Linked DNA regions of Homo sapiens. The protein of the gene in region 2 interacts with the protein of the main gene of each other region in a pairwise test. Each region holds a gene or a part of one and is shown on either strand. Other genes may lie near its edges.

Region 1 (4,242 bases), on a different chromosome or scaffold from region 2:
GTCATCAAAAACAGTAAAGTCTGAGAAACCCGTCACACTTAAGAGGAGCCTAAGGAGACGTGACAACTAAATATAATGTGGAATCCTAAATGGGATTCATGTACAGAAAAAGAGCAATAGGTAAAAACCAAAGAAATGTCAATCAAGTATCAACCTTAGTTAATAATAATGTATCAGTATTCATTCATTAATTGTAACAAATATACGAATCAATTTTTTTTTTTTTTTTTTTTTTGAGATGGAGTTTCGCTCTTGTTGCCCGGCTGGAGTGCAATGGCGCGATCTCGGCTCACTGCAACTTCCGCCTCCCAGGTTCAAGCGATTCTCCTGCCTCAGCCTGCTGAGTACCTGGGATTACAGGCATGCGCCACCACGCCTGGCTAATTTTATACTTTTTTTAGTACAGAGGGGGTTTCTCCATGTTGGTCAGGCTGGTCTCCACCTCCCGACCAGGTGATCCATCCGCCTCGGCCTCCCAAAGTGCTAGATTACAGGCATGAGCCACTGCGCCCGGCATTTTTTTTTTTTTTTTTTTTTTTTTTTTTGAGATGGAGTTTCGCTCTTGTTGCCCGGCTGGAGTGCAATGGCGCGATCTCGGCTCACTGCAACCTCCGCCTCCCGGGTTCAAGCGATTCTCCTGCCTCAGCCTCCCGAGTAGTTGGGATTACAGGAGCCCGCCACCGTGCCCGGCTAATTTGTTTTTGTATTTTTAGTAGAGACGGGGTTTCACCATCTTGGCCAGGTTGGTCTCGAACTCCTGACCTCGTGATCCACCCGCCTCAGCCTCCCAAAGTGCTGGGATTACAGGCGTGAGTCACCGCGGCCGGCCAATCTACAATGTTAATAGGGGAAACTGTGCACTGGGACAAATGGGAACTCTTGGCACTATCTGCTAAATTTTTCCGTAAGTCTTAAATTGTTCTAAAATATATAATCTATTAATTAAAACAAAAACAAAAAACAAAAAAAACTCGAGGCTGGGCGTGGTGGTTCACACCTGTAATCCCAGCACTCTGGGAGGCTGGGGTGGGATGACTACTTAAGTCCAGGAGTTTGAGACCAGCCGGGGCAACATAGTGAGATTCCATCTCTACAAAAAATAAAAAAATTAGCCAGGCATGGTGGCACATGCCAGTAGTCCCAGCTACGTGGGAGACTGAGGTGGAAGGATCGCTTCAGCCCGGGAGATAAGAGGATTCAGTGAGCCATGATCATGTCACTGCACTCACCCTGGGTGACAGAGACCTTGTCTCAAAACAAAAAGCTAAAACAAAAATCAAGTAGCAATTCAAAATTCCCAAGAGATTAGTTGGTGAAAAAAATATTTAAAAATAATATGTAGAAGGTAATCTTCTGTCAGAAATACATACACACATATGAATTAAAAATCTGTTATAGAAGGATATGTACCAAAAATTAACAACGGTTAATTTGAAGGATGAGGGTTTTTTGAATTTTTTCTGGTGGGGAGAGTTGTGTATCTTTTTTTTTTTTTTTTTGAGACAGAGTCTTGCTCTGTCACCCAGGCTGGAGTGGTGCAGTGGTGCAATCTCGGCTCACCGCAGCCTCCACCTTACGGGTTCAAGCAATTCTCCTGCCTCAGCCTCCTGAGTGGCTGGGATTACAGGCACCCACCACCATGCTTAGCTAATTTTTGTATTTTTAGTAGAGAGGGGGTTTTCCCATGTTGGCCAGGCTGGTCTCAAACTCCTGACCTCGTGATCTGCCTGCCTCAGCCTCCCAAAGTGCTGGGATTACAGGCATGAGCCACCATGCCCAGCCAGGTTATGTATGCTTTGTTTTTTTCTATACTGAATAGAATACTATAACAACATTAAAATATTAATTTAAAAATTTTTGGCTGGGCATGGTGGCTCATGCCTGTAATCCCAACACTTTGGGAGGCCGAGGCAGGTGGATCACAAGGTCAAGGGATCGAGAACATCCTGGTCAACATGGCAAAACCCCGTCTCTACTAAAATACAAAAATTAGCTGGGCATGGTGGTGTGCGCCTGTAGTCCCAGCTACTCAGGAAGCTGAGGCAGGAGAATCGCTTGAACCCGGGAGGTGGAGGTTGCAGTGAGCCGAGATGGCGCCACTGCACTCCAGACTGGCAAAAGAGCGAGACTGTGTCTCAAAAAAATTTTTTTTTAATGGGCCAGTTGTGGTGGTTCATGGAGGTAATTTCAGCACTTTGGGAGGCCAGGGCAGAAGGATCACTTGGGCCCAGGCAGTCGAGGCTGCAGTGAGCTATGATCACACCACTGTGCACCAGTCTGGGCAACAGAGTGAGACCGTGTCTCAATAAATAGATAAATAAAATTTAAATGTCGTAACAGAATACTAAATGAGATTAATAATCTGTAGCTAGGAGAGGGTAGAAAAATGTATATCTGAGGAATCTGGGAAGTTTCAAGCCCAACTGCCATAAAAAAAATTGAGGAAACAATGGCTGTTGGTTAAGATATCAAATTGCAATCTGTTTGAAAAGAGCATATTAAGGGAGAGAAGATGTCTCATGGAGACTAGAGAAATAATAAGAATTTGTTGGCTGGGCGTGGTGGCTCATGCTTGTAATCCCAGCACTTTAGGAGGCTGAGGTGGGCGGATCACGAGGTCAGGAGTTCAAGACCAGCCTGACCAACAAAGTGAAACCCCGTCTCTACTAAAAATACAAAAAATTAGCCAGGCGTGGTGGTGCACGCCTGTAATCCCAGCTACTCAGGAGGCCGAGGCAGGAGAATAACTTGAAATCAGGAGGCAGAGGTTGCAGTGAGCCAAGATTGTGCCACTGCACTCCAGCCTGGGCAACAGAGCGAGACTCTGTCTCAAAAAAAAAAAAAAAAGAATTTGTCACCGTGTCTTCAGCCCCTTTTAAGCGAGAGAACATTCTAACCAGCTGGTTAAGTATCTTTCCACTTGACAGATATAGTTCTGGCAGTGGAGATAGGAGCTGCTGTGACTGCAAAGCAATGAAGAGTCAATAAATGGCCATGAGTTTGAGGTTAGACAAATTCCACACCATTTCTACACATTAAATGAGTGATCCTCTAAGAATGCAGGGGAAAAAGAAGACAAAATTTTATTTAATACAGGTTGGGAAATAAACCATCCATCTGCCCCATTCATCTTAGGAATCTATAGGGAGTCTCTGCTATTAAAGATTGTGATGGAGTTAAAATTCTTGAGGATACTTAAGGTCTCCCATAATCTAGTCACAATCTGCTCCTCCTTAACATCAACCTTTCCAGAGAGTTTACCCCTGTACTCTGTTTTACTCCAAACAACACTCATATACACTATGCTCATTCCCAATTATTCATACATATATATTGTGGTGGAAGTTACTGAGAGGCAGGTTTCAACTAAACATACAGAAAAACACTAACAATTACATCAAATTTAAGGAAGGCAGTACATGTAGAGGTTAAGAATATGGTTTTGAATCCCAGTTCAATTTCCTAGCTACAAAACTCTGGTAATTTATTTATTGTCTCTAAACCTGTTTCCTCATCTGTAAAATGGGAATAAAAATAACAATAATAGAATCATTTCACTCAACAAATATTTACTGAGTGCTTACTAGGTGTGCCAGGCACTGTTCTAGATTCTATGGATATAGCAGTGTGCAAAACAGACAAAAACATGCTGCACCCACGGGGTTTAAATGGAGCTTTCATTCCAGTGGAGGCATCAGCAAACAAACAATACTTCAAGCCATGAGACTAGGTGAGACCCCTAAAGGAGTGGATGTGGACAGAGAAAATAAGAAATCCAGGCACTGAGGCCTGGGGCACGCTGATGTGTAGAATTTGCTATACATGTAATAAATAAAGCAAGAAATTAACACCCTTAAAATCTTGGAAATCCAAATTTTAAAAAATCATCTCAATAGAAAAAATGGGCAAAGGACATGAACAGGCAACTGGCAAAGAGAATGGCCATGTCTGGACATGGTGGCTCACTCCTGTAATCCAGGGTTTTGGGAGGCCGAGGTGGACAGATCACTTGAGGCCAGGAGTTCATGACCAGCCTGGGCAACATAGAGAAACCCTGTCTCTACTAAAAATACAAAAAATTAGCCAGGCACAGTGGTACACACCTTTAATTCCAGCTACTCAGGAGGCTGAGGCATGAGACTCACTTGAACACAGGAGGTGGAGGTTGCAGTGAGCTGAGATCTCACCACTGCACTCCAGCTTGGGCAACAGAGCAAGACTGTCTCAAAAAAAAAAAAAAGG
Region 2 (4,242 bases):
ATAAAAATAAAACCTTTATTTCTATTGTATAATACAAAAGGTTTTAAGAATATTCTTCTGTGCCTCAAATTATATTCACTTTTTAAATATACATATATATATATATGTATATTCAAATTTTTTCATAGAGATGAGCTTTCACCATGTTGCCCAGGCTGGTCCTGGGCTCAAAATATCTGCCTGCTTCAGCCCAAAGTGCTGGGATTACTGGCATGAGCCATCACACCCGGCCTATCTTCACTCTTACTTATAGCAAAGTAAGGTAATAAATGCTGGAAAACATCCAAATTCTTTTTGTATGGAATTTGGCTAAAAGAACCCAGTGCTCAAACCACACTGTAAGTTCATGAAACAGAGAAAAACATGTACCCTAAACCTAGGTTCTGAATCTTTCGCATATTTTAACGTCAGTTCTGTTTATGGAATTTGGGTCTGTTTTCCTGGTGTGGAAGTGTACTTGAAGTAGGGTGAAACAAAGGCAGGTTGAGATACCTGTGATTAATAAAAGTAAAATAATTTCAAGTCAACTTAATTCATTTCTCCAATCTCATAGTGCACACCCACCAGGTTCTTTAATTATGGAAAGATGGTCTTTCTGCATCCAGAGAAAACATCTGATATTACACTGAAAATTTAGTGAAATCTATAAAACACTATTACTTTAGGTCATCCAAGAGGGCAGGAAAATAACTGTTACAAAAAATATTTTTGTATTTTTGTAATGGGATTTTACCTATAACAATGGTAAAAGCTCACATTTACTGAGTGACCAGTATGTGTCAGATAATTAAGAATTTTACACGGATTGACTTAATCCTCCCAAAAACCCTATAAATTAGATGTGATTACCATTATTAGCCCTGTTTTATAGATGGAAAGTAAGCTTGGGTAATTTAAGCTCATTTCCATTCTACAACAGGATTCAAACATGAGGTGTCAGTTAGCACGCTTAATCTCCATGCTACACCGTGTTCCCGTCTATGTAGAAAGATGAGTATCTTCCCACCTATGTAGAAATATGAGTATGCTCCATTCAGGTAAAATCCCATCTCCTGTCAGATTTTTCTCTCTTGCAGCTCATTTAAAATACATCCTGAAAGTTATTTGATCATAAGATGTAATTCCTTTAAAGCATAGTTTTTGACTTAAAAATTAAATATTTTCCCTATTACATTTTTAAATTTTTACTATCTCCAAAAATGTATAAAACATTTGAAACATGTTAAAAACAGAATAAGACAAAAAAATTCATGTTTTAAAGGAACATATCTGGTTAGCTGGTATTCCATTGAAAGTATCTTATAATAAACACAAATTTTAATTTTTCATTTAACAACACTAAAGAATGAGGTATATAAATGTTTTAATCACAGACTTTTACTGTATGCAATTAATTGTATTTCACAACTAGCATCTTACAAAAAAGACAGTACCACTGTGCCTGTAAAAAGTACTGTAATTAAACAGAAAATTACATTACCACATGAAACCACCAAATATCACAACTGTTAGGGTCTACAGTTTTATTTTTTCTTCAAATGTTATCATGATGTCTTATGTGATATTTTGCATCCACATTCTATTTTTAAGTTCATTTACAATTCAGAAGTCTCCTTTAGGTAGATATATATTAAGCAAATGGTTAAGAGAAAGCAGGAGACCCCAGGAGAATTTAAGTACTGTGTGGTTTCTAGGTTGAAATTCTAAATACAACATAAAACTCTTTAAATAGTTGTAAACAAAAATGCAAAATCTGTAGTCATAAAAATATTTTATTGGTAATTTTACATAGTATAAGTGGGGCTATACTTTTTTCCTTTCAGGATACTGAGAAATGTGTAAACTGGCAGCTGTGTCTGAAAATAGGGTACTATGATTTTCATAAGAATTATTGTATTTAATAAGAAGCCAATTTGACTGATTTAAAATTAGTTATTTCCCATTTCTGTGCAATAATTCCCATTTCTGTTTTAATTAGATTCATACTTCTATGGCCCTGGATAAGTTTGGGACAAGAAAACAATGATAAAACTATCATTAAGTTAAAGCTTTTCTAAAATTGCAGCTTGTAAAATATGGCAAGTTTCTTTTCTCTTGTTTTTGCCAAATGCTTATAATTATTTGAATTTTAATGTTTTATATGATACAGAAAATACCAGTGTTCAATGACAATAGCACTAAACCTGAATTATAAAGCTAAATAATCAATGTTTTATTGTTTACTAGTCCGCTAGTAAACATTACAATAAATGAATGTTTTGAAAAATAAGCAAACAAAAAAACCTCAAAAAATAGATAAAACCAGAAACATAATTCAGGAACAATAATTAGTAAAACGTGTCAAAAACATTGGCAAAGGTTCATACAAATTCTTTATTTAATAACAATTTTCCTATTTAACCACACCAAGTACCAGCAGGTGTATTTAAGAGGATAACCATTAAGAAAAACCTGTTGCAGCAATAGTTAAGTTGTTCTTTGACTTGTATACATATAACTATCTGTTTCACAATTCTCAAATAATACATATTTAGGCAGCTTGCACTATGTTATAAAAAATTTAAATTCGTTACATGCCAATAGTAGAGAATTCAAGAATTATGTGTTAGAATTCACTAAACTAAAAGTGAAAATACACTTACCAATAACACTGCATAATGAATAATTCAACCACATTTTCATGGCACTTAACTGCAGAGACCAAAATGTTAAGTCTGGAAATGTTTGGTAGGCATCATTGCAATAAAATCTAACAAATTCTAACAAATTTCTATTTTATGTAAAACTCAAATTATGGATTGTGCATGAATGTATCTGTCATGAAAATGTGGTACCTCTTGGCATAATCTGTGTATTTGCATGGTAGGACAGAAGTGACTAAGAAATTGGAGAAAATAAACTTTAATGAGATTCTCCATTCAATGATGAGGCTTCTCCTCTGGGTGAAGATGACCTGGACATTCCTCTCTCTGTGTTATCAGAGCTAGAGCCGCTTTGACTGTGTTGATCTGCAGAAGCAGCACTAGATGCAGGCGGTGACTTTGTTTTCTCCTTAAAGTCTGTAATAATGACTGTCAGATCTCCAACAGTAACTTCCAAATGCTGAGCACTACTCCGATCCACATTTTTCAATCTTGGCCTAAACATAAAAAAATGAAATTTTAAACTAGCTTTTCCCTCTACCAAATTTCTGAGCATATAATAAATAATAAAAGTGGTAAAAGTAACAAAATGAATACATGTATTTAAGGCAATTTATGTGTAACTAGCCACAAAAACATCATAAAATGTTTCAACTCATTAACATTAATCAAACCAATCATTCATGAACATTCTTCAATGCAACCAAAAAACTGTGACAGCCTAGAAGTAGAACTTGTGCTTCTATAGCTGTATCATAATTTTGCAGACAGCTTATTAATTTTATTAAAATAGATGTTTTAGACAACAATGAAATAGTTGCACCATGGAGGAAGGTGATAAAAGCTAAGGTTGAGCTATATGCAAGGAAGACTGTTACTCCACTGACACACACTAATAAGGGTATCATGATTGTTATGACTGAACGCATGACCATTTTGATAGGTTAAAACCCATGCAATTATCTGTTCGGTATGTTGAAAACCACTCCTGGTTCAAATAGCTCTTCTTAAGGGAAAAACAAAACAAAACAAAACAAATCCAGACACAAATGTCTTCCAATCTCGTAAAAAGAAAAAAGCATCATCACATTTAAGCTTGTATTTCTGGCTTCTGTGTTTAATTTCCTATGTATCTTTCAAACTCAGTAAAACCTTTCCTGATACCTTATAATAAAGGAGACCAAATATTTTACTTCCACTTTGTGTATATTAGTATGTCAAGGTTAAAAAAATTAAATGGTTTTATTATTTCAAAAATGTCATAAAACACTCTTCACATTTACCTGGTTTTCTTATGGCTATTCTTTTTGCTAGTTGTTTCCTTTTCACTTTTTTCTTTTTCTACTTTATCTTTTTTCTCTTTCTTTGACTGTGTAGGAGGCACAAACTGCTGAGTAACCTGCTGTGCAACCAACTGGGAGACAGGTCGAGGTTTCCTGTGTGCATGTTAAAAAGAAAGGTATTTTAAATTACAACTTAAAACATAAGTGCTTTATGACAGAATATCTCACATTATGAAAACAAGTTAATAACAATAACTTTCAAGTATAAAAATTCCTCATATGTAAGGTAATTTAAATATACAATTTTAAAGATATGT
Region 3 (4,242 bases), on a different chromosome or scaffold from region 2:
GTTATAAAGTTAAAATTAAAAAGACATAACCTAAATGATTCGCTATAGTTGTTTTTTGCTCATTATCATCCCTTCCTCAGGAAAACTACACCTCATCCAATTCATGTCATCTCAAGGGGACTGTCAATCCTGGCTTTCTGTGGGTTCCCCAACTCACCCTAACCACAGCCACCACAGTGGCTACCCTTGCTGTAGCTCATCTCCCAGGTTCCAATGATTGGTTAAGGAACTGACAATCAGAATTGATTACCAACAACACAACTGACATGTGGACATCAGGAAAGAGAAGCTGTCTTTCAAGTGTGGTTGCTAAGCTAAAGGTATATGTCTGGGGCTCCAGAAGCAAGAGGCTAGAAAAACCCAGAAAGGAGACAAAGAAACCCAATGACATTACTTGCAACCTTGGATCTAGCTGTTTCCAAAGCCATTCCATCACCCTCCACATACAATACCCAGTATGTGAACCAATACACTCATTTTTTAACTTAACAAAGTCGTGTTGTTATTACGTGTAACCAAAGGATTCATGACTAACATCCTACCTAAAGAAGAGTAGTTAACCAATTATAGTGCATCCATTCAAGGAAATAACATTGACAGAATAGTGTAACTGTTAAGAGCATGTACTCAGCCCAGTCTGAATCCTGGCTCTGCTAAATATTCTCTATGTGTGCCTGGGTACATTCCTTTTTTTTTTTTAGACAAGGCCTCACTCTGTTGCCCTGGCTGGAGTGTAGTGGCGTAATCACGGCTCACTGCAGCCTCAACCTCCTGGGCTCAGGCGATCCACCTCAGCCTCCCAACTAGCTGCAACTACAGGCGTGCACCACAATGCCCGGCTAATTTTTGTATATTTTTGTAGAGACAGGGTTTCACCATGTTGTCCAGGCTGGTCTCGAACTCCTGCGCTCAAGCCATCTGCCCACCTCAGCCTCCCTAAATGCCGGGATTACAGGCATGAGCCACTGTGCCTGGCCCTTGGATACATTACTTAACTTCTCTATGCCTCAATTTCCTCATCTATAAAGTCGGGATAATAACAGGACTTCATGTGATTGTTAGGAGAAGCAAATGAATTACTATTTACAAATGCCGGGAATAGTGTCCAGCATTAATAAATATGTGTATCTTTTTTTTTTTTTTTTTTTTTTGAGACGGAGTCTTGCTCTGTCGCCCAGGCTGGAGTGCAGTGGCGCCATCTCAGCTCACTGCAAGCTCTGCCTCCCAGGTTCACACCATTCTCCCGCCTCAGCCTCCCGAGTAGCTGGGACTACAGGCGCCCACCACCACGCCCAGCTAATTTTTTTGTATTTTTAGTAGAGACAGGGTTTCACCGTGTTAGCCAGGATGGTCTCGATCTCCTGACCTCGTGATCCGCCCGCCTCAGCCTCCCAAAGTGCTGGGATTACAGGCGTGAGCCACCGCGCCCAGCCATGTGTATCTTTAAGTAAATGAAATAAGTATCTTTAAGTAAATGAAATAAGTAACAGAGTAGTATACAAAGTTGAACTAAACTACATATTTACACAGATGTTTAAAAGAAATCGGCAAGGAAAAGGGAAATTTTATATTTTTTATGAGGCAAATATACAGTATCAAAAAAGGAAAAAAGTAAAACATGTCTCTGGTCTTAGGAGACAGGATGAGTATGATTAGCCTCACACAAACCCCTCTGACCTTCACCAGAGGAACTACATTCATCCTCAGATAGGAAGCACTTACCTAAGTGTCCAGTGGGGAATCATGAAGTCACACAACTTATCATATTAACAGCAAGAATTTAAACCTAGTAGTTTATTTACTCCAGCTAATTAGTTTTCAAGGAAAAGCACAAATTTATGAGTATAACCAATTCTTAACAATCCACATAGATGAAGAGGAAAAAATATTTTAAGTCATCCCCCCAAAATACTTATATTTGGCTAATGAATCTATGTAGAATATAATCACTTTTATTTAAATACAGGTTAAATTGCCTTCTTGAAATTCATTAAATTTCAGACCTAATGATGAAGCCACATTGGAAAAATTTAATTCAAGTTTGACAACCTACCACCTGGATCTGCTCTGCTCTGCATATCTTTCCACTCCATGACTGATAAATTCCTATCAATCCATTCAAATCCTGCCTCTCAATTAGGTTTGCTATATAATACATGCTACCAAAGGTTTTGTTATTGTTGTTGTTGTTGTTGTTGTTAGCAATAAAAGAATTAAAACTAAGTATTTTTTTAAAATACTTTTTTACAGATTAGCTAGACTGCACATCCTCTTCCCCTTGCCCATACTGAATACTATTAACAGAGTCAAAGATCTGCCACTAAAGCATTATAATTTAGTTTAAAGCCTTGTCCATCAGGTTATAAAGCCTCCACAATAAATAGACTGCTCCGATACTGACAGTGGGAAGTTTTTTGTTCAAATTCTAGTATTTACTTGTTATGGCTCCAGTGGGTTTATGAGGCCAAAATATCAAGATAAATGGAATTACAAATTAGATTATCTAACATGGAAATAAAATTTTTCATTGATGTATCTCTAACATTTTCCATGAATGGACAAAACTTATCTTAAAAAAATGAAGTGTAGGATTTGCACAGCTGGTACAGCTTTCTAAATTGGGTTGTTTGGTTGGGGTTTTTGTATTTTTTTAAATCTTATCTTCACACGTGTATAAAAACTCATGCAAAAAAAAGTTAACAAAAGTTTAGAAGTAAAATGAATAAGCCTGGAAGTCTGATTAGTAAGTTAAAATCTGCTTAGGAAAAACTACTAAAATACTAAAAACCAAATTTTCATATTTTAGGCAATATATCCTAGTGATTAAAATACACCAACTTGGTTCAAATCCCCATCATGTACTACTCTAGGTCACACTGGTAAGTCACTTTACTTCTCTGTGCTTCAGTTTTCTCATCTGAAGATGGGAATAACAACTGTATGTAACTCAGAGTTATGAGATATAAGAATTAACATGTGCGAACACAATAAACTTTAGCTATTACTGTTACTGTTATCCATATCACCCTCTAAAATATAGTTCACTTAAGAATTACTAAAATAAGCATCTTCCTGGGTCTGAAATATGTGCATACCATGATATATAGAGAGATGATGTATGTGAAACAGTCCTTTGACAAAACTTTTAGTTGAGTGCCAACTCTGTAGAGGATGTCCTCCTGTGCACTGAAAATACGAAAATGAACAAAATATAGTCTCTGAATTCAAGACCTTTCTGTCTAGTAGACAATATAAATAAAACTATAATAAAAGTAGCATGATGCAGATGCTATGGAAACAGACAATCCTGTGAGACACTAAACAACACAGGCACTTAACTAGGGGCAGACACAGGGGTCCCAGATAAAATAAACTCCAGCAATATTTTCTGAGGAACAATCACCTACTTACTTCACTTCCGGGTATCACACTGTTATTTACGCAATTTATATTATTAATATATTAATAAGTGTTTTACAAAAAACAAGACTACCTATCACACTACTTACCATGCTCATAAACTTAAATACCCTTTGGTATTAATGAAGATGTTTTCTTTTTTCTTTTTTGAGACAGGGTGTCACTGTGTTGCCCAGGCTGGAGTGCAGTGGCATGATCATAGCTCACTGCATCAACTGCAGTCTTGAACTGCTGGGATCAAGGTGGGATCCTCCCACCTCAGCCTCCCCAGTAGCTAGGACTACCGACATATGCCACCATACCCAGCTAACTTTTTTTTTTTTTTGAGACAGGATCAGGCTAGTCTCAAACTCCTGGACTCAAGCAATCCTCTTGCCTTGGTCTCCCAAAGCTGGGATTACAGGCCTGAGACATAGCACCTCGCCTGATGATATTCTCTTAAAAAAACAAAATATAACCTTGCAAAGGTTATACTGCCTCTTCAAGAAACATTTCTTTCACCAATAAATAAAAGCTACAAACTTTCCCCTAATAAATTATATTACGACTAATGTCACAGGAATGACAATATTTTTGAGCTGGAAGAGACCTTTGAGAGCCTCTAATCCAATGCTCTCATTTTACAGATGAAAAGAGGCTGTAAAGTATAATGGAAAAAAAAAACCAACCTGAGAGTCAGAAAACTGAATTTTGGGCCCAACTGTCTTACAGTGAAAGCCTGTGCAAATTATCTGCTTCCTCATCTGTAAAATGAGAGGTTTGTACTAGATTGCTTCCAAGATCCGGTTCAGCTCTGTAATTCTTAGTTTATGGAACTGAAGC
Region 4 (3,863 bases), on a different chromosome or scaffold from region 2:
GATATCACAGATGGGGCAAGGCTTCCAGAGTGTCACGGGATTAGGCCAGGCTTTTGCTCAGTGTCCCTGTTGGATGCACTTATAACAGGCTCCTGGAGTTGACTGTTGCCAAGTTGAGGAATTCTGTATGCCTTGGGAACCCTGTTGAGTGGCAGCTATCAGCATTTGATATTTAGCCTGGCCCTTTTTTAGGTTTGGGTTTTTTAGTTCTTCCTCTCTAATCTTATAGACCTTAAAGGCCACTTTGATTAAGTCTCTTTGGAGGTTTGAGGGCCATCCTCCACTTTTTAAAGTTTTTTTTCAAATGTCTGGGGCTGACTGGGAGATAAAGTGTAAATGGAGGTAGATTTTGCCCTTAATGGTATTAGGGCTTAAGGTGGCATATTTAGTTGTGACCTTTGAAAAGGCGGGAGAGGAAAAGAGCAGGGGCGACTTTATTTATGCCAGCTAGAAGGCATGATATCATATGGCCTGGTTTCTGCCTGTCTACAGAAGTTGCCTGATAATTCCGATTGAGGTCAGTTCTGGGGACAGCTAGGGTCCCTACTGGGTTATGAGCAGCATCTTGTTGGTGGAGGGTGTTCTCATGGACCTGGGCACCCGTAAATATGTGTTCCCTGTCCTCCAGGGTGAGGGTAGAGGAGAGGATGACATATATGTCATGCCAGGTAAGGTCATAAGATTTAGGGAAGTACAGACATTCCTTGAGGAAGGAGGTAGGATCCATTGAAAAGGAGCAAAGTCTCTTTTCAGTATGGGAGAAGTCAGCTAGGGAACTTGAATTCAGATTATGCCTTCAGTCCTTGCAACCTCCTGCAAGGGAAAGACTTTGGAAGGCCTTTGGGCATGTGTCTGGTTTTCGGCAAAAGAGCGTTGGGCGTGAGACCTGGTTTGAGGTGGAGAAGGAAGGGGGATGGAGGGTGACAGTAAGGGGGTGGAGGAGCCGGATCCGAAGGAGAAGGTGGAGGGAATGGGAGAGGGCAGGAGCCAGACGAAGGGGTTTGTTGGCCAGGTTGAAATTCAGAGGAGGAAGGCTTGTCCCGAGGAGGAGGCATTTTGGGGGGTTTCTCCTTGAGGAGGAAGATTTGAAAAGGTGAACAAGATTGGCAGGAGAGTGAGTGAGGCATGAGCGGAGATAAGCAAAGCACTTCAGATCATTTACCATTGTGTTGGAGAAAGATTTTTAGATGATGTTGAATTTGAAAGTTGAATGTTTTGTTTTTTAGAAGAGGGGAGTGAATACTCTGGATGGGAGTGAATACTCTGGGGAAAGTGAGTACCCCAGAAGGGAGTGAATACCCCAGAGGGGAGTGAGTTCTCCAGAGGGAAGTGAATACCCCAGAGGAAAGTGAGTACTGGATTCCACCTGGGAGAAGGGACCTGGAGAGTTGGGACAGCCCCATAGCTATTCATGCTCCCCAGAGGACGGAGCGGCCAGAATGGCAAGTGTTCTGAGGCTGTCCCCTGAGAAGGGAGGCTGCAGTCACCTGGTGACTGGGGAGACCTCTCACCCAGCACTGGAATTTTTTTGGAGAACAAGCAGAAATAGAAAGGAATCCAGAAAGGAAGAATAGGGAGACTCACCCACGAATTGAAGCCCAGTGTTGGATGTGATGTCCAGCAATGGGGGTGATCCTGGTTGCAGCTGCTTGGGAAGGGGAAGGAAGGAAAAATAAGATGGAGAGTTTGATCAATATCTGGAGGTTAGTCCAGGGCTGGAGAAGATGAGAGAATAGGGGAAACAGGACTGGGAACAGACAGTCCACTCAGGATCTGGAAGTAGGCCCCGGTCTAGTTTGTGCTGCTTGCTGCTTTCTGCTTTCCAGGTTGCAAGAGAAAACTTACCCATTAGAACCCAATCACCGTCCTGGGTTTTGGCACCAAAGTGTTAGGTTTTGAAGGGAAGATGAGGGTGAAAGAAAGACAGACAGAGAGGGTGCATCTCAAACAACAACACAGGAATATTGCAGACACCTGTGGAAGTGGGGGACCAGCTTAATGCCAGAGCCCACTGCCGCTTATAGCCTGGGGTACTTACAGGTATGGGTGGGAGGGAGCTGGGCAGTATGGCTTGCTGCCCAGGAGGATATTGATAAGATGTTCTTATGATCAGGTGGTTTGGCCCTTTTTCCAGTGGAATATCATTGTGGTGTTCCTTTGCAGCTGCCTGGAAAGGGGAATGAAGGAAAAATAAGATGGAGAGTTTAATCAATATCTGGAGGTTAGCCCAGGGCTGGAGAAGATGAAAGAATAAGGGGAACAGGACTTATGATAGGGATGTTTCTTTAGTTGAGCCTTTGTCCACCTTGTGGTCAGGTGGTTAGGCAGGATGTTGCTCATGGCCTGAACCCCCATGGAATGTTTCACTTTGACCAAGGTCTGCAACATAGCAAAAACTTACAAAATCATGCAGTTTGGACTAACAGGTGACTCTACCCATGCTCCTCTTCTTCTTCTGCATAGATACCTACCCTATGATTTCACCTTGTTCTTCTCTGGCACACACCCCTTCCTCCACCTGCATTCCTTCTCATAAAGCCCCCCTTGCTATCTAGTCTCTATCCTATTCACCCAAAATAATGTCTTTCTGGCCTCTCCCTATTTTCTTACCAGATGCAAGAGGTACCAAACAGAGTCTTAGCCCCCGAACAGAGTTTGAAGAACACAAAAACATCAGAATATCCAATAATATTTGTGTATTACCTCAGGAAGGGTAAGAAAATAAATTCAAATCAACTGGAGAATGAACAGTCCCAAGAGAACTCCATCAATCCAATCCAAAAGGAGGAGGACGAAGGCGTAGACTTATCTGAAGGATCTTCAAATGAGGATGAAGACCTAGGCCCATGTGAAGGACCTTCAAAGGAGGACAAAGATCTAGACTCATCTGAAGGATCCTCACAGGAGGATGAAGACCTAGGCTTATCTGAAGGATCTTCACAGGACAGTGGGGAGGATTAGTCACACATGGAGAAACCAAATTGGACAAATCATCACCACTGATGGCGATGATTACAATAAAATCAAGTTTAAGGAGCTGATGACTGTGTTTATCTCTGCCTGTTGTCTGGTGTGGGGTGGGGAAGGGAAGGGAAGAGGTAGGCATTTGAGAAGGGAGGGATATGAGGTCCTGTAGGTTGGGAGACGGACCCACAGGTTGACAGTTAGCCAGACATTGCAAATAAGGACTGGCGGAGGACTGATTCCTCAGACAAATTTTCTTCTTAAAATTTTGTCTTACAGGAGAGGAAGAAAAGGACATGGTGTTTCTTGGAGCATGTGATTGTGTAGAAGGGTGTACAAAAAGATCTGTATTCGCTGGGCATGGTGGCTCATGCCTCTAATCCCAGCACTTTGGGAGGCTGAGACTGGCAGTCACCTGAGGTCAGGAGTTTGAGACCAGCATGGGCCAACATGGTGAACCCCTGTCTCTACTAAAAAATATATAAAAATTAGCCAGGCATGGTGTCAGGCACCTGTAATCCCAGCTACTTGAAGGCCAAGGCAGGAGAATCGCTTGAACCCAGGAGGTGGAAGTTGCAGTGAGCCGAGATCACGCCACTGCACTCCAGCCTGGGGGATAGAGCAAGGCTCTGTTTCCAAAATAACAAAAATTAAATAAAATAAAACAAAATAAAATGACCTGGATTGTATTTAGGTGACAGTGACACTCTTTCCAAAATGAAGACATCAAAATCACCACCTCCAGGCCACATACATCATAGTGGCATGGGTTATGACTCATCCAATGCTGTGAGCAACTGAAGCCCCTCAAACGGATCAAAAACCTCACCCTACATAAAGTAAGACATCATGTCACACACACTAAAATAATGGTGCTTGGAGGCCATGGTCCCAATACT
Region 5 (4,242 bases), on a different chromosome or scaffold from region 2:
TTTTATGATGTAAAATTGCATAAGTGATCTGTGACTCTGGTGTGTAGGCTTTTTATGCAAGAAGAAAAAAATGTAAATTATATATTATTAGTAAGCAATTTAAAAGTATTGTCAAGATAAATTTGAAGGAAACATGTAAACTCATTTCTTTTCCTCAATCAAGGCTTTTAAATATAAAATAATCTTTTGTTAAAACACACATTTTTGAAGTTAAGTCTTTGTTCTTTCCATTTTATTTTACAGATTTTTAAAATCTCATTTTGTCCATTTTTTCCTTTCTCTCTCTTAAGGAAAAATACTTTATGTCTTCCTAGATTTTTTTCTTCCAACTCTGTAAAAGAGCAGCTCTAATGAAATGTTATGAAACCATTTTAGAAAATTATTATAAAGATTTTTTTAAAAAGTCTAGTTTCCTTTATAATTTCTAGAGGAATCAAAACACGACAGTACATTGGTACTGACCTGCGAACAAATTTGGATGTGATTTTGCTTATTATACCAGTTGACGTTCCCCTTCTGGCATGTGCAAATGCACCCGTTTCATGGGATGGTGAAGCAGGTGGCCCATTATAAGCAACGCTGCGTCGCTCCCGGAGCTGTTCACCATGGAAAGTGCTTCGGCTTGAGCTCCCTCGGGGAAAACGGGTCCGGTCTGGAGTCGCAGTACTAATACTGTGAGCAGATGGGGAAGCAGCAGGCACTCTCTGGGTTGTACTGCTGGGACAAATTAAGATATATCATTCAGAATAATGACAAGAAAACCTTTCACTCAAGCTAAAAACTTGAAACAAATAGCTATGGCTACTTCTTTTGGCCCTACTTTATTTGTTCACATTAGAGATGTGAGACATGGGTTTGGAGTAAAATTTCAGTTTGAAATTAGGTACCTTTTGTTTGGTCACTAAAAATCAAGAAATGACTGAAACAGGGACACAAAGATAAATACTTTTCAGTATCAGGAATGCCAAACCAGGAGTACTGCAAATATTTTTTTAATATTCTCCTGAAACCACTTAGCAATGTTGAACACAAATTTTATTGTTTATTAAAAAGGCTTTGAATAAAATAATTTCCTATTTCTAATTTAGGCCTCAGTGATGCTACAATACCACATGGCACCACCAATATGCCTAACAAATCTAACAGAGGGTTAAAATGTTCAGATGTACTGAATTTGGGAAATCTTAAAATAGAAAAATACTAGAAAAACAATTATACAATTTTATATCTGAACAGGCTCTTTGAGTTCATCAGTTTCATTGACAGGAAAACTGAAGCCTGGTTTTATTAAGAACAAGGAATTGAGCCTGATCATTATCTGCGGGTCTCAACTCACAGTCTAGTGTTTGTTCGTATGGTTTAAATAATAAAAAAATCAATTTACCTAAATGACAAATTAAACAGCAATTTTTAACTTTATAGACGGATGTAAAATCAAATCCTTAAAAAAATTCCTCTAGAAAATGATTTAAGTTATATGCAACATTTCCAATAACAGCCAAAGTACATAGAAAGTTTATGTTACAATTCAATTTTTCCTCCATAACAAACACTGAATCTTATTAGAAAGGTCTTAATGTGATGGTGACTATCATGTATTTTCACATGGTGCTATATTTTTAGAAACTCTTAATGAACAAAATGAGATGTAACCAACACATTACCCAGGCCGGTAAGCTTCAGAGCCGTCTTTAATGGTTGGCAGTGTGACTTTAATAGGATGACCAGAAGTGGACATGGACTTCTGGTGGCGGGGTCGTGCTGAGGGGACAGCAGAGGCCACAGAAGAGCCTGCAGAAGATATGCTACTCACAGACATCTCCGTAAGGCTTTCACCATAAAGCAGTTGAGAAGACCATGGAAAAAAAGAGGAAAATTTGTGGTTTACTAAAATTTAAGAACTATATTTTAAAAAATCTAAACTGACTAACACCTTTCATGACTGAAACATTTGAAAGAAACTAACATTAGTGGCATTATTAATGACTAACAAAACAATTAATATTCTTATGAAAAGTATACAGGGTGAATTTATCACTATCATCTATGAAAAAAATCTCACACACACTATGTATGTAAATGTGAGAAAGTACAAAATTATTTTTGTGGATATACGATAGTTTCAGATAAAATTATTATGACTGGAGTCATTTTTTACTTCCCCAAAGTCACAGTTTGGTGTGATATGTTGCTGTAGTTCATTGTCCATTATTCATACAATCAGAATTGATAATTATACCAAAAATATTATCTCTAGATTCATCAAAACACTTTTAGATCATATTATGAGTCAATAGGTTAACTGTTGCAGATTAAAGGAGCTGCAGATTAAAATTTAGTATAGGAAAAATCATAAGTCTGAAATCAATTTCCAATTATCTTATGTCCAAAGAAGATACATTTTTCTTTGTATGCCTTACAATAGCACTTACTTTACATTCTTATTAAGTGAGAAGAAACAAATGTGAGAATGGGTTGTACACACTACTGAAATGACTGAAGGTGGTACTAAGAAAATAATTTCATTAGAATAGGCTCCATGTCTTTGTACTATATTGATGAGTAGTCCTTGTGACTCATGATAGAAAGAAGACACATCTTTTAAGTAATAAAAATAATATGATTTATTATTATTTGAAATAAAACACTTTAAAAATTATGTGGTTCTGAATGATGAGAAATAAGATGGTCACATTTTTTTCAGAGGGAGAAAAATAAAGCCTTTATTGAGATACAGCAATGACTTGATGGGAAGTGAAAGGGAAGGAGGCAGCAGGTGCATAAGAGAATAAGATTCAAATTATGAAGATGAAATTAGGATGGTATGATCTGCTTTGTTATAGAAAAATATTTACTATCAGATTTTACTCAGAAATTGGCAGGTAAAGAGATTTGTTTCTTGTTTTCTCTAAATGTTTTCCCATCCTTCTATCCTGGTACAGGAAAGATGTCTTACTAAGAACGGTTGGTTGCAATCTTACTATTTCATGTAATAACTGCTTTTCTCCTGACCCATTCGGCTGCAGGCATTTCAGCAAGGGCACTAACACAGAACAACAGCAAAGGTATTACTACTTGGCACTGTGGCATTTACCTGCTGTCTTTTCCATTCTGCAATGCTACGTATCGATCTGTGGTCCTTTCACAGACATATGTATTCCTTCTTGCCATGCTACCTCCAGAATACACATTGTTCTTCAAGAATAAAAAAAAGGCAATTAAAAAATTATAAATATATTTGTGGAAAGCCAAAGAAATGTATTTAAGCTGACTTTGAGAAAAATCCACAGAATTTTAATTGATCAGAATCTTATATTAACAAGATTATCCCCTGCCTCTCTCTAATTTAGATTTCAGAAGTAAAAGACAAAGCATCAAAAATGAACTCATTACAGTTTTAGCTTATCCTCCTATAATAGCAGCCAGCAGTTTGGAAGCAATAGGAGAGCTGGGTTTCTATTCACTCCCTCCTTTGTGAGCTGGTGGTAGAGAAAGGGCAGGAGCAGGGGTGTGAGCAGCTCTAAGTAACAAGGAGTGCAAGCCAACTCCACACTAAGTATCATCACCAACAGGAGCCTCGGGCAGTGAAGATGGCATGCCCACTCAGAAGCCAGTGGGCTGCCTTTCTTCACCTGCTTGGGAAACTCTCTCAACCACCAGGAATATTAAGCAGACTAAATGCCCCAGGATCAAAGGCATGTCCAGCTGAGGCCACCAACAGTGGTGTGTGCAGTGCCACCCTGAAGATATTTCCTCGAGTCTCAGGTTTGAGCTAGAAGGCAGGCCAAGTCTGAGGAGCCTTGGAGAGAAGAGAGAAAATAAGCAAAAAGGGATAGGCAGGTAATTCTCCTTACCATGCACACAACCTTTGACCTGTAACCCACTGTTGTGCCTGCCAAATCCTTGACTACTCACCAGTAATAAAATATACAGAAATGATTTTCAATGTGGATATAATACTCTTCTGTTTAATCCTTACCCAACAGAACAAAAATTTTTGCTACTTTTGACTAACCCAGCATTTAAAATATATAAGCAACCTAAACATTGTTGAATCATGAGGGCTACAAACTTAATAGATACTTGCTTGAATTCACTTTGAAGAAGGAAAAAAACTCATATAAACAAAACTGAATACAGATTTAAAATTTTTCAGTAGTGCAGGTTCCTAGATGGAAGGAATTTTGTCACCAGTTATATAAAAAGCATATGCTAAAAACTATAAAAGTATGGTAGCAAAAC
Region 6 (4,810 bases), on a different chromosome or scaffold from region 2:
CAAGGCCTCATCAACTCTCCCAAGTGCAAAAAGCACCACACCACCTCAATGGTTTCTCAGGCTTAAAATGTTTACTTAATAAACCAGTGGATTCTGCAGGCCAGTGCTGCCTAACGCAGCACCCACGAGCCACTTGTCACGTCTGAGCACTTGAAATGTGGATAGTATTACAGAGAAAATGTTTTAATTTAACTGAATTAAATGGCTCTGGCCTGACTGGCAAGAAGGTTAAGCTGATTACTTGAAAAATGAACTGGTGGCCGGGGGCGGTGGCTCACGCCTGTAATCCCAGCACTTTGGGAGGCCGAGGCGGGTGGATCACCCGAGGTCAGGAGTTGGAGACCAGCCTGAACAACAGGGAGAAACCCCGCCTCTACTAAAAATACAAAATTAGCCGAGCATGGTGGCGCATGCCTGTAATCCCAGCTACGCGGGAGGTTGAGGCAGGAGAATCGCTTGAACCCGGTAAGCGGAGGCTGAGGTGAGCCGAGATAGTGCCATTGCACTCCAGCCTGGGCAAGAGAGAGACTCAGTCTCAAAAAAAAAAGAAAAACAGAAAAAAGAAAAATGAACACCTGTAGATATACATGTGTTTTTAAAGCAATATTACTTCATATATGAAAACATCCTCTAAGGGGAACAGCAGACCAACTGTGTTTCCCAGAGGGAACACTACTCTTGAGAATTTTAAAAGACCTTTAGTTTGAGCATATCCTAAAGAATTCAAATTCTAGATTTTAACGCATTTCTGAAGACCCACGTGTGTACTTCTCTTGCGGGCACTTTGGCTAATTTTAGCTACTCCATATTCTACGGATTTGCAATTACGCCGCAATGGAAAAGTCTGGAATAAACACCTTCTCAAGCCAAGAAAGCCTCTCAAGTTTTGAGGCGCGAGCTGGGCGATAGGCTAGCACGTGGCGGGCACAAAATGTCTGACGGAAGGTCGGAAGAACGCACGCCCGCGACCCTCCATCTCGCAACCCCCGGAGCGGCCCACCCTCGCGGGCCCTCCGGGAAGGACAGCGCCGTGCGGTGGAGCCCGGCCCGCCCCGCGTTAGTGGTGACCTCAAAGACTAGAGAGCAAGGATTTAAAATGTCGAGCACACCAGGTAAACCCTGGTCGACGAATTCCCACAAGTTCGCGACTTGTTAACCACAGCCACCTGAGGGCACGAAACCTGGCCGCTCGCTTAGCCCAGAGCGGGTCGGGAGGCCCCGCGGGGCCGCCCTCCGCGGGAAAGCCACTGGCCCGCTGGGGCACCCGGCCGCGGCGCTAACTGGCCCGCGCCGGTCCGCGGCGGGGGGGGGGCTCGCGACGGCGGGCAGCCGCGCTAAACCCGGGAGACGAATGGGGCAATTCCCACAGGTCGGACCCACGCCCACGCAGCCGCGCCGCAAGAGGGCCGCCCTCAGGCCCCTACAGCCCGCAAGGCGCGCGGCCGACCGCACCAGGCCGCTCTCAAGCACGTGGGAGGCCAGAGGCCGCCCGGCCCACGAGCCGAGCCGAAGCCCGCCCAAAATCCCGCGCGCCCGGCGCGGGGCGGGGGCGGCCGCCTGCCGTTGCCCTTTTAAGAAGGGGGAGGGGGTCGGCAGCGCGCCCGCGACGGGATGAGTCGGCGGCGGCCGCGGCGCGCGGCTCCCGCCAGTGGGAGCCAAGCCCCGGCGGGGCGGGGGGAAACAGACCGAGGGCTCGGCGCGGGAAGAGGCGGCCGCCAGCCAGCGCCGAGGGCGGGCGGGCAAGGCCAAGCTCGTGGGCCGGCTCACCAGGCGCAGGGAGACGGGCACCCGCCAACATGGCGCTGCGGCGGCCTGTGGCGCGCCCCGGCTGGCGTGAAGAGCCGCCGCCCGCCCACACGGAGGGGCCAGCCTCCCGGGGCAAGGGCAGGGGCCCCGGGCGCCGCCGCCGCGGCACAGGGGGAAGGGCGAGGCCGTCGCCACAACGGTTGGCCTTGGTCGACCCGGGCTGCCCCTGGGAGGCAGGAGTGGGCAAGGCCGAGGGCGAAGAGGGAGCGAGAGAACGGGGGAGAAAGTTTTATTTTTGGGCTTGAAAAATGGCGGGAACCACGTCCTTTTTTCAAACTTGGCCTCGGGAGGGGCGGCGGTTGCGCCACCTCCGCCGCCCTGGCCCGCCCCTCCCCCGCTCCGCGCGCCGGGCCGCGCCCGCCCAGGCCTCCAGGCGCCCGAGGGGGCTTCTCGCTCCCTTCAAAAGAAAAAAGCCCCCTCCTCGCCCCACGACTGCTGACCTCGGCCGGGCCGGCGCCCACGGCGAGCTCCGGCCACAAGAGCCCCCGTCCCGCCCCACCCGCGCCCCTTCCCCGGCCGGCCCGGGGCGCGCGGAGCCCGGCCTGGCCCAGGCGGGGATGGCCGCGCAGCTCCTCGGCAGGCCGGGCCTCCGCCCGGCCGCGCATCCCGGGAGGCTGCAAACATGGCTCCCAGCGTTACACAACCCCCGCCTCCCTCTCTCGCCGCCGGCCACTTGCACACGCGCTCCCTCAGGGGAAAGACCCCGGCGGGCGAAGCGCTCAAAGTTTGCTTTCCCCCACACCGCTGCCTCCCCCCGGCCGCCCCAGGGGCCCGCGGGCGGCAAAGAGTTAATCCTCGCGCGCTCGCTCCCCCCTCCGCGCCCGCCCGCCTTCCCCGTCCGAGCCCACGAGCTGCGCTCTTCCCCGCGCCGGGGCCGGCGAACCCTCAGCCCGGGCCCCGCAGGTGGCCACCATTACATGCAAGTCATCGGGGGAGAGGGCACCCAGAGGGGTCTCTGCTTACAGCTGCCGGGGTCCGGTTCCTCAGCTCCAGGTGGATCCTCCTCTTCATGTCCATGTTCCCCTCTTCCCCCCTCTTCAAACTTAACTTTCCGCGGCGGGGGCGGAGGGGGGAGAGGCGTCCCGGCTTGCGCAGCGAGGGCCGTCGGAAGGGTTTGCTAGCGGCGGAGGCCGGCGGCGCGGTCCTGGGTGGCGGGCGGCGTGCGGGCAGGCGAGCGGAGCCCCCGGAGCCAAGTTACTCACGGGAGCGGAGAGAAACCATGGAGGGAAAAGGGGGCTGGAGCGCAGCGCTGGGCTCACTACCGCCGCCCCCGGCCGCGGCCTGCACTGCGCTTAAACCGGCGACGCGGCGCGGCAGCTGCTCGGCTCCACTCGGCCCCGCGCGGCGCTGCTCGGCTCGGCGGCCGCGGCTGCACCAAGGCGGGGCGGGGAGACTCGCGGCGGGCGGGGCGGAGGCTGGGGAAAGGCGCAGCCCGAATAGAGGAGCGACTTCCTCCCTCTCTCCGATTGCACGTGGGGCGGCTGATGTAAGACCTTTCTCGTGGGTGGGGGGGCTTCCCCGCCCCCCGGCCCCCGCCGCGCTGAGACTCCTTCTACCTCCGGCCCCACGTCGTCGCGCCCGGAGCTGGGCTTGCGGCCCGGGCTGGGAGGTTCGCGGGAAGGGTTGGTGGGAAGCTTTGCAGTCCGGCTGCGGGGGTCCCTAAAACCCAGTCCATCCGGGGAGGCTCACGGGGGCGGCCCGACGCCCGCGGAGGCGCGAGATGTGAAGAAGCCGGGGACAGGCTTTGACGTTCACCTTTTGCCTGCCACACAGTCTGGGGCCAACAGGCCGAACCCCGCTGCCTCCTTGGCAGACTGGCGTCCGTAGTGCCGCCGAGGATCCCCCCCGTCGGGACGGAATCGCGGCCGACCGGCCCTGGCAGGGCAGCTGGGGTCGCTTGCTAAGCCACAGAGCAGCCGAGCATCCCCACCCTGTTCAGGAGAGTCTCCCTCGGTTTTCTAACATTTTAATAGGAGCTAGAGAAGGAAACGATTAGCATTTCTAATAGGGCCTCAGGGTTTCCCCGCAGACTTTTTTTTTTAATCTCATTTATTCCTTAGGGCACCCCTGTGAAGTGTGTAAATTCTTGGTGGTCTAAGTTTCGCTGAAACCTGGCAGGCAGCCTTTGTCATGGTCTGGCCCAAAGGGTCCCAGGGGTTAGAGCACCAGATCGGGATGAGTGTTGTGCTTTGCAGAACACCGGGGAATGACGTTATATTCAGCGTACAATAAGTAAATACATAATGTGTCAAATCAAATACAATCTAAGAAGATCGTACTGACAAGAAGCACCAAAAACTAAGAACAATTTGTTAAAGAAAAACTTGAAATTCTATGTATTAACATGAAGTTTTATGGAAGTTAAGAAAGTGCCCCCTTTCCTATTTTACCTAAGTTTTAGTGGCAAACAACCCAAATTTAGTTGTAAACCAATTATATATCAGCTTTTAAAATACTGAGTGAGTTAACATTTGAAGATGAAAGTTTTAGAAGGAATATGGGAAAAGAAAAACTTTCTGGTAGTAGTTCCCTGACTCCGTTTGTAGTCTCAGCAGACGTCTTTATGACAAGGGAAAATGGAGACAGATGTTCTCAGGGTTACAAAAGGTCTGTAACTAAGGTTATGAGAACCACAGGGCTATGCAATGAGGGCTTTTACCAAACAAAACAAAACAAAACAAAAAATCGGTTTCATGAGCCAACAAGCGATTATTGAGGATCTGCTTTAAGGGGCTTGATATTATTTCTCTAATTCTCAGACAACTTTCTGAAGTAGGTGATAATTTAATCATTTTACAGATGAGGAGCTCAGGAATCTTAAGCTGCACGTCCAGCAAGAAGCAGAGCTAGGATTTACACCCAGATAGGTCTGACTCCACAGCCCACCATCTTGTGCTACATCATCAGTCTGGCTAGAGTGGAGTCATAGCATGGTGGGGGGCTACTTTGGTGCTGTAGGTTGGGAACAGTTGCAGAGGGCTTTTAATACCAAACAGCATGCAAG
Region 7 (3,247 bases), on a different chromosome or scaffold from region 2:
TGCCGCTTACTCCTACCTAGGCCCTAATTCTTTCATCCAGCTCTATAGCCTAGGGACTTCTCACATGTTTTGTGGCAAATGGGATACCCTAAGAAAGGAAGCAGATGAGGAGAGACATAGCGCAAGGTATGGGGAAAGGGGTAGGGAGCTTCTGTGCCCACTAGGGGCATGCTGCCCTCCATATGTTCAGCTAGCCAGAAGCCGTCTGAATCCTGTCCTTTTGGTTTTGATGGAGGTTTTCATTCTGTAGGCGTGACTGATTAAACTGTTGTCCTGCCACTGGGGATCAAATTAACCTTCTGCCTCTTCCCGAATGCTGGGGGGGGGGGAGGGGCAGCTGAAAGCCCCAACCCTCCTATTCCCCAAACTAGAGCTACCTAGGTGCTGCCAGCCATGAGTCAACTCACTAGCATATAAAAAGACACCACTTTGTGGAGATTTTAAAAATTGTAGTAGTTGTATGCCAGGAAGCAGGGTCTAGGACCAAATATGTATTACACAATATCACACCTGTGCATACCAGCTCAATCAGAACACAAAATTTCAAAAATGATACTGAATTTTAAAAAAAAAAAAAAAAATAGAGTCTCTATCTCAAAAAAAAATTAACCTCATCCTGGACCTCCTGGGCTGGAGGCATCCTCCACCCTTCGGCTCTAGAGTAGCTGGGGCTATAGCTACATACAAACTTGCATACATTCATGCATTCACTCTTTTATTTTTGTAGAGAGAGAGTCTTGCTTTGTTGCCCCATCTGGTCTCAAACTACTGAGCTCAAGCAATCCTCCTGCCTCAGCATCCCAAAGTGCTGGGATTACAGGCGTGGACAACCGCAGCCAGAAACAATTTCCAATATTATCAAATACCTGGGAAGGAAGTGAACCAAAGATGAGCAAGACTTCTTTGGTGAAAGCTGCAAAACTTTATTGAGATAGTTTAAGTCAAATATCTAATATAAAACCAGCTTGCGTTGTTTCAGCTTGTCTTCATTTAAACTTGTGGTTGCTCTTCACCTATAACAGAAGCATAACAGGTGGGAACATTACTAGCAGAACTGTGTTTAAATGACATTAAGGATATGGAAAAGACACCAAAGTTTTAGTTTTCTACAATGGACAAAACCAGAAGCCTAAGAGTCACCCTTTTGCTTATATTCATGTAGACCTCTGAAGAGACTTTGACAACAGTCGTCCAAGTGTATGCATTAAAGATGTTTTTCAAACACACCCTGCTTTCTAGTGCTACAAGGAAAGCAAGACAGTCCAAGGTCCGAACACATTAAATGAAGTGAACCTACTAAAAAGGGGTTTAAAGTAGAAAGCAAACATTGTGCATAGTTTTACTCAAAATACCAGCACCACACAAAAATCCTAAGAAACAAAAAAGGAATTTACGAAAAATGTATAATTTTTGGCAAACACTCTTTTAATATTCTGGCTTGAATCTGTGGTCTGCATGCCAAACGGGCTCCTGGAAATGGTCTGAATACTATCTTGGAAGAAAACGGTTACTGTCACCTTAGGAACTGAATAAGTAAAGTGAATAGAAAGGCCAGCATTGCATTTGTTTTTACTCTATTGCGCAGAAGGGCAAAAATATTTATTTGGGCTCGTTTACCCTTCTGTGGTTTTTAAGGTACAGCAACCGTTTGTACCCAGTTTTCTCCTACCGTGATGTCAACATGAATCATGCCTCTTTTTACACTTGAAAGTATTCCCATTTGTATAATTAAGTATATGGTCGCATTACTCTTAAGCTATCACTATCAGTTTTGTCATCAATATGTGATAGCATTATGAACTGTGTCACACATGAACACATGGAGGGATACGGGAATGGAAAACAAGAGTAGGACAGCTGAAAAAGCCAAAATTTGTTTCTAAAAGTAAATGTTTCTGAGGGACAACTGGAAAATTTCACAGTTTCTTCCACAGGCTTTGTGATGCTTAATCAGGTATTACAGAAATAAATAATGCATGCCTTCCTAGCTTACCAACCATTTCATCCATGCTCTGAAAATCTTAGCGTTCAAGACTGTATTCACTTTCAATAAAGCCCTGTATTAAATCACTCTGTCTTGTTCATATTCCATGTTGTGCTTTTTCCGTTTCTTCAAGATTGTGTAAATTACTGAATATTCGTAGCTAATTTTCAAAACACCAATCTTTTCAATTTATGACATTTGAACTACTTTTCCTTATACTAATGATTCGTACCTGTCTTTTATTCACTACCACTTTCTTTTTCCTTTAAGTTTATTCTCTGGCTCTTTTATTGTTATTTCATAGTATTCTTTTCCTTTAACATGTAACGTGCTATTTATTTTAATAAGACGTGCATTTAAAGCTATGATCTCCCTAAGAATACAACTGAGGCTTGTTCAGTGGGCTCCTGGAAATCGTCTGAGAACTATCTTTTAATGTAAATAGTATAATGGAATGGTTCAGCAGGGTACAGTAAAAACACTTAGGTAATTTCTCCCTTAAACATGGGGTGCTTCCTTTAACTTCAAGAGGTATTGTAATTAACAGTCACCAATTTGGAAAATATGTGTAAAACATACTTGTGTCAACTACTCAGGAACTAGCACAGTGCTGTTGTTGAACTTCAAACCCTATCATCTAATGCCTCAAGGCAGAAACCTGTAATATGTAACCTATGGTATGGTTAGAGGTGACTCTACTATATGAGTCTTCAATCTAATTACACGAAGTAGTTCATGAAGACTGACGGGAGGGCAGGGAGCATGCTTAGCAGAAGCATCTTACACCCACCTTGGGCATCACTGACCTACATGCATTCTCTCTACTTCACTGGCCACAGAAACCTGATGATCTCCTGCCATTTTATCATTCAGTCATTCAAGGCTTCACTGCGGGAAGGCTTTAAAATGCAATTATTCTTTAAGAGACAGAGAACTCAGAATTTGGCAAAATACAAGAACACTCATACAGGGCTCCACACAGGAAAACAAACACCAAGCAGAGTGCCCGCTCATTTTCCTAGGAACCATGAAATCTCAACTCAGACACTATAATTGGACTGAAGCTGATTGTTATGATAAACAAATCATGAAGATCAGAATATCTTGGTCTTCTATCCAACAGAACCAGAGCATGTGGAAATTAGCAACGAAATGGATTTTAATCTATCTGATGTGCATCCACTCTTTTCACTAAGAGCAAGGATGCCTGTGGAATTTATACGATTCATCCAGACTCTCACAAATTATGGTAGAGCTGGTACT

Evidence for each region.
Region 1: the proteins of YAF2 (region 2) and POLR3GL interact in binary tests that used the Homo sapiens proteins (3 or more experiments, as listed by UniProt).
Region 3: the proteins of YAF2 (region 2) and TLK1 interact in binary tests that used the Homo sapiens proteins (3 or more experiments, as listed by UniProt).
Region 4: the proteins of YAF2 (region 2) and SPANXN3 interact in binary tests that used the Homo sapiens proteins (3 or more experiments, as listed by UniProt).
Region 5: the proteins of YAF2 (region 2) and MARK1 interact in binary tests that used the Homo sapiens proteins (3 or more experiments, as listed by UniProt).
Region 6: the proteins of YAF2 (region 2) and ANP32B interact in binary tests that used the Homo sapiens proteins (3 or more experiments, as listed by UniProt).
Region 7: the proteins of YAF2 (region 2) and XAGE1A interact in binary tests that used the Homo sapiens proteins (3 or more experiments, as listed by UniProt).

What each region holds. Positions count from the first base shown.
Region 1 is NC_000001.11:145,967,179-145,971,420, reverse strand, and holds part of POLR3GL (DNA-directed RNA polymerase III subunit RPC7-like), read right to left. Parts: intron 1-4,242. UniProt on the Homo sapiens protein: DNA-dependent RNA polymerase catalyzes the transcription of DNA into RNA using the four ribonucleoside triphosphates as substrates. Specific peripheric component of RNA polymerase III which synthesizes small RNAs, such as 5S rRNA and tRNAs.
Region 2 is NC_000012.12:42,157,688-42,161,929, forward strand, and holds part of YAF2 (YY1-associated factor 2), read right to left. Parts: intron 4,079-4,242; coding exon 3,926-4,078; intron 3,140-3,925; coding exon 2,902-3,139; 3' UTR 1-2,901. UniProt on the Homo sapiens protein: Binds to MYC and inhibits MYC-mediated transactivation. Also binds to MYCN and enhances MYCN-dependent transcriptional activation. Increases calpain 2-mediated proteolysis of YY1 in vitro.
Region 3 is NC_000002.12:171,150,342-171,154,583, forward strand, and holds part of TLK1 (serine/threonine-protein kinase tousled-like 1), read right to left. Parts: intron 1-4,242. UniProt on the Homo sapiens protein: Rapidly and transiently inhibited by phosphorylation following the generation of DNA double-stranded breaks during S-phase. This is cell cycle checkpoint and ATM-pathway dependent and appears to regulate processes involved in chromatin assembly.
Region 4 is NC_000023.11:143,507,913-143,511,775, reverse strand, and holds the end of SPANXN3 (sperm protein associated with the nucleus on the X chromosome N3), read left to right. Parts: intron 1-2,613; coding exon 2,614-2,961; 3' UTR 2,962-3,041; downstream 3,042-3,863.
Region 5 is NC_000001.11:220,649,573-220,653,814, reverse strand, and holds part of MARK1 (serine/threonine-protein kinase MARK1), read right to left. Parts: intron 3,196-4,242; coding exon 3,095-3,195; intron 1,830-3,094; coding exon 1,665-1,829; intron 718-1,664; coding exon of another isoform or gene 715-717; coding exon 463-714; intron 1-462. UniProt on the Homo sapiens protein: Serine/threonine-protein kinase. Involved in cell polarity and microtubule dynamics regulation. Phosphorylates DCX, MAP2 and MAP4. Phosphorylates the microtubule-associated protein MAPT/TAU.
Region 6 is NC_000009.12:97,981,569-97,986,378, reverse strand, and holds the start of ANP32B (acidic leucine-rich nuclear phosphoprotein 32 family member B), read right to left. Parts: upstream 3,039-4,810; 5' UTR 2,824-3,038; coding exon 2,770-2,823; intron 944-2,769; exon of another isoform or gene 858-943; intron 1-857. UniProt on the Homo sapiens protein: Multifunctional protein that is involved in the regulation of many processes including cell proliferation, apoptosis, cell cycle progression or transcription.
Region 7 is NC_000023.11:52,498,468-52,501,714, reverse strand, and holds the end of XAGE1A (X antigen family member 1), read right to left. Parts: intron 1,014-3,247; coding exon 991-1,013; 3' UTR 903-990; downstream 1-902.